2 separate regions of the Homo sapiens genome follow, and region 1 is linked to region 2. Evidence: fine-mapped expression QTL. Tissue or cell type: nasal epithelium. Region 2 holds a variant in brackets; the other region holds the start of a gene. All regions are shown on one strand. Distances are between the middles of the regions.

What was found. PIP is the estimated chance that this variant, and not a neighbour inherited with it, causes the effect.
Region 1: it holds the start of LINC02198, and the variant in region 2 is the best candidate, but not a certain one, in a credible set for the expression of LINC02198 in nasal epithelium (TOPMed, PIP 0.54).

The regions. Positions count from the first base shown.
Region 1 is chr5:69,028,878-69,031,696 of GRCh38, forward strand. It overlaps LINC02198 (long intergenic non-protein coding RNA 2198), which reads right to left and starts at 1,050. Exons shown (of 4, transcript NR_130778.1): 1 at 911-1,050.
Region 2 is chr5:68,952,734-68,955,552 of GRCh38, forward strand. No RefSeq gene overlaps it. Among named protein-coding and RNA genes, the nearest start is that of LINC02198, 76 kb to the right of the region's middle. The variant C/T (reference allele first, on the strand shown) is at 1,426.

The DNA.
Region 1 (2,819 bases), 76 kb after region 2:
AGCTCCTGGGACATCCCTTGTCTTGTTTCCCAGTTTTGTTCCTACCTATGTTTTGCCAGGATTCAGAGGAGCTGGGTTCTAGGCTTGATTAAAATCTTTCTAATCGTGTCATCTTGTTAACATCTTGTTGGTCATCTGTTTACACCTCTTGAATATCAGATCTAGCCCAGATCTGATCCTTTCCCCCATACTCATATTAAAATGCACCCCCACCTTCGCCTGTAGAGGGCCATCCTTGCCCCACTCCACATATTTAGCTCAGGAGTTATTGTCTCCATCCTGGCTAATCAGAGTTAACCACATACTAGGAAAACAGAACTAAGAGATGTCAAGGGAATCTGGGCCCTGATGGTATCAATCGAACATCTCTTTCAAGGCACATTGAAAGCTCACTCTAGTCCTGAACTTTTCAATTCTGTGAGCCAAAACACAGAGACAGAGACAGACAGAGAGACAGATACCTTTTACTGTGTAATCCACTTTGAGTTTTCTGTCGCTTGTAATGCATCTTTCTTGGAAGCATGTTTTTCATCAATAAAACAAGGATAATACTTGCTACCAAGCTTCAGTAGGATGTAAGTATTTTGGAAAGTCTAAAGCCTATTCAAACATAAAGTATTATTCCTACTTCCTCTTTTATGCTCTTGCCTGAGTTCCTTGCATACTAATACTTTCAAAGCATAAAACATAATACTATACCAAAAGAACATTTTCATTACCTGATATTCCTGTTCTGTGTTCAGGGACTTTTGATCCCATCTGTTCTACAGAATCTTTTATATAATAGAATTCTTTGAAACCAGACCAGCAAAGTTCTGTTTCAATGAACCATTTGTTCCCTAAGCCACAAAAATAGCTCCTGCAAATAAACCCTATGTTTAAAATGGTGTTTGTGAAAACCTCATTTTACCTGTGATATATATGAATGTACTTTGGAAATAAATTTGCCTTGTAAATTTGTCATTGATGTCTAGTAAATTTTCATTACTACTAATTAGTTAAAGTATTAGTTCCTTCTGATTTCTTGATCTTGGGACTTGCTGCTCAAAAAAGGCACTGGCTTTGGGGATCCAACAATGAAAGATCTTGGGTCTTTATTCAAACAGCAGATGATTTTCTTTTCAATGCTGCTGATTTTACTTCTGTGGTTCTTTTTTCTTCATTTCTGCTTCTCCCTCCTTTTCACGACTAATTTGGCTTTGAAATTTGATTCTTTGATTTAATCCATCTGCAATATTTATTCCTCATAGCTATTATCAGTGCCTTTGCAGAAAGTCATCTGTTGCCTGAGGAATTAGAAGACAAGGAGATATTAGGGGTTTGAGTTGCACTCTAAAAAATTAGAGAACAGAAGCAATATATTGGGATGTTAATCCAATCTCAATAAAGCTGTTACTTAAAGAGAAAAAAAGCAATGAGTTAATACTGGCCGACCCCTCAAGAACCCATGCAGAATCACAAACTGATCCTCCCCTGGGTTCATCAGCATGAAGGATGATGGCATTCTTTTCTCGATCCAAATAAAACCCAGCAAACCCTTCTTCAAGTGTTACCAATGAGGCATGTAGAATCACAGTAAGGAGATTTAACTGATAAAGGCATTTTATTTTCCAGCATTTAAGTGTACACTTTAAAGACTAAAATCAATTCCAACGTCCCTATTTATACTCTGGTGGTACACATGTGTATATATAGCAAACCAGCCATTAGGAAAGAAGCTTTGCATCTTTCCACATAATCCAAAATAATGGCAAATTATGATGTGGTGATTAAATCAAGACCTTCCATATCAAAAAATATATTGCGGACTGGATCTATTCAAAGCTACCTTCTTTTTCAATTTTTTATATTTTATTCCACCTTGCCAATGTACTTTCCTTATAATTCATTCTCTAGCTCAGCTGGACTTATTGCTACTTAGAATGGCACATACAACAGTGAAAAGATGATGTCACCCTTTAGCCAAATTGCACTATTATTCCAGAACTGCATGTACTCTCATTCATTTATCTCTGCTGACATCGCTCCACAGGAAGGTTTTCCAGGGCAGATGCGTGCTCCCTTGGCAATAAAAGTGGTGGAGATTGCACATCCATTTTAAAATCCTGAAAGGTAGATTTTAGTAAATCTCAACTTTTTAAAAATGTATTGTGATTAAAGGAGGCATCAGTTGTTGTCCCCAAACCTGTTCTGGTTAAAAACCTCAAAGAATCTTGAATGTGAAACAACCTTCAAAATTTATTCTCATTATACAAATATTTTCTTCATTTAAAGGCATGTTTTAAAAGCTGAATTTAAGAAGAATTGTGCAGATTATAGTGGTCTATTTTGCAAGTATGTGCATATATGCTAAGAAATAACTATACACTTTAGTGAACATTTGATAAGGAGTCGGGGGAAAAATTAGTGAAAGATTATTATGCAGGATTCTATTCAAGTGTGCCAGAACAGCTTTAAAATCAAATGCAAGCATTAGAGATAGGAAGAGACTTTAGGAAGAGGAAGACAAGCAATTGCAGAAATTGTATAAAACAGAAAAGGCAACGTAGGAAGTAAGAGTGAAGAGAAAATCCAGGAAAAATAGGGTTGGGTACAGTGGCTCATAGTTGTAATCCCAACATTTTAGGAAACTGAGGCAAGACAATCGCTTAAGGCCAGGAGTTCAAGACCAGCCTGGACAACATAGTGAAACCCCATCTCTACAAAAAATTTAAAAATTAGCCAGATGTGGTGGCACACACCTGTGGTCCCAGCTACTCAGGAGGCTGAGGCAGGAGGATGGCTTGAGCCCAGGAGTTCAAGGCTGCAGTGAGCCACGA
Region 2 (2,819 bases):
TATCCCTGGTGCCTAGCACAGTACTTGACATATAAAGAATAAGATACATTCTGTACCCTCAGGAAGTCCAGAGTCAAGTGGATGAGAAAAACAAGTCAACAATTATTACAATAAGATAAAAGTGCAATTGAGAAATATGAAAGTATAGTGGTAGGCAGAAGAAGGAAAATAGACATATTAAGAATTCAAAGTTCAAAATGGTATTGCGGGTCCAATTTACTTATAAGTGTCTAGGCTACAAGGATGTCTAAGTATACATGCATAGATAGAAACATAATAAAATGGTTTTGATGGTGGTGGCAAGGCTGAGCGTAGCCACTATTGTGGGGGAACGGCTGCTGGTGATAAAGGTGATGATGACGGTGGGTTTCAGAAGACAGGGATATTTATTGGGTGATCGGAATTGGTATCCTTTCTTGCTACAGTACCAATTCTCAACCATCCCTGAGACCTCTCTCTTCATACATTCCAGTGGTTCACCATAGAGGTAATATCCATCCAGCCACAGCAACAACAGCCACAAAATGTTAGCAGCAATGGCCTATTTGGTAACAAACCATGTGGAATTGCTGACAGCCTGTGGTCACTTAGAGATGCACCCAAATGCCAAGAAATCAAAAACGAAGCCCTCTGCTCAAACCTGCCTTAGATTAGTTGAGGGCCATTTGCCTGACCAGGAGAAACAACGATAACTTTGAGGAGGGTGAGAAAGCCAGGAAGGGGAGGAAGAAACTAAACATGAATTGAAAGCAGATGACACAAGCCCCTGGCTCATATAACCCTGCAAGAAAGAGCATGAAACACGTTTCTTGCAGAAGGATGATTATCAGAAAGAAAAAAAAAAGATTGCAATAAATCCTAACCAAAACCAACAAAAGAAAATGTTGGACAGTTTGTTGGATAAATATTCAGTAAGGCTGATCCAACTCACTGAGTTGTTATAAAGAACAGCTAATAAAAAAAGATTGTCAAGGACACTGCAAACATAGAAGAACTAACCAATAATAAGAACATTAATAATAAGGGAGGACCTAGGAATAAAACCAATTCAATCAAGACCTACAATGTTGAGCAACTAGCACAGAAATAAAGAAAACAGATATGACTGTCTGGAGGTGGTCCAAACAAACAAGAACCAAAACCACTTTTTTGCTCTTAATTTTTAAAAGAAGACAAGTTTACAGGGTATACGACTATAAATAAATATTAGCCAACGGGCTCTTGCTTTTCCCTAGAGACAGCTCCCTTGGAAACGACTTCCTGGATGGAGAGGGTAAGGAAGTTGAAGTCTCTTACTCTCCTCCCCAGAGCTCAGGGTCCATGACAGGAAGACTTCCCTCCCTAGTCTGACAATTTGGGATTGGAAAAAAAACGCTGGAAGGAATCCAAAGCTGTGGTTCATTTCATTCTTTCATTCTCTGCTTT[C/T]GCCAAATGCTGACAATTACAAACAAATGTTTTCTTCACAAATACTTTCTTCTAGATGAACATTCTGCTCATTTTGGTTGCTTATGTATAAATGGCTTGAGAAACACTTTCTAAATCCCCAAGGTGACAGAATTTCCACGTAATGATAATGATTATTTAATATCATCATCACAATGGGCTGCCTGGGCAAATGAAATGCTTGCTGGGTCTAAAGCATTCACTCAAGTGAGGTAAATTAACGCTTTCCAGGGTACCAGATTTCCCGTTGGGACCCTAAAGAAGATAACTCATTACTCAGGCATTCTCTACCCCCAACACTGCTGTCTACCAGCAAGTTCTTCAGTTGCTTTAAACTGTCAGGCTTCTCAGCCAGTGCAGGGAAGTCCAAGAGAGATAAGAATACGCTGAAAAGGTCCACACTAGGTGGATATTTTTAGTCATCTGAAGACAGTCCAGGAGTTATAATCATCATAATAACCCATGTGACGCAGCTCATCTTCCTTCTCAAAGCACTTACAACATGTTAATCATCCCCTTTGATCCTCACAATAATCCCTGAGGTATGCAAAGCAGGTATTATTATAGTCAGCACCTGGCTATAGTAGCGAGAAGGACATAGACAAATGATATGGAGGTAAGCCTCAGAGACACAGAAAAGCAAGACAGGGTGTAGCAGGAAGAGGGAGCAGGCCCCAAAACCACTAGCATCAAAAGCAGTGAGGGTTTGGGACCAGGGTCCCTATGGAGTCAAACCGCATATTAGCACATGGAGACAGAAACATGACGAGGCTTGAGGGTCTCATTGGGTAGACTGAGTTTAAAAGATGATCTAGTGATGATTTACTGTTTAAAGATTATTGTTTCTATGGCCAAAATCAAGAAAAATGGAAATGAAAATGGACTCTGCATCCATTTTACTATTTGTACTATGTGTCAGGTGTTTTTCTATAAAATACTAACTCATTAAGTCTACACAACTAATCTCTGCAAGACAGATATTATCAACCTATTTTATATTACAGATGAGAAGACTGAGGCCCAAAGAAGTTATGCTATTTGCCCAAGGTCACATATCTGCTAAGTGGTGCAGATGAGATTCAGGGACTAGGAGAAAGAAAGCAACAGAAGGTTGGGGGCACAGGCCGGGAATAACTGAGCCATAAGTTACAGGCAGCAACAATAAGAGCATCTAGATAAGCATTTAAGAATAAGGAATGAATGCTTCCTGAGCCCTGGGCTCTATGTCCTTCCTGCCCAGAGCATCGCCTGCTCTTGAAGCATATCAGAGGCTGGGCTCACAGAGCCTGGTGAGAGGGCCATCCGACTGAGGTGGAAGAGAGAGGATAACAGGCAAGATGATTCCTGGCCATTAGCACCCTTTCACAGAGAGGGAA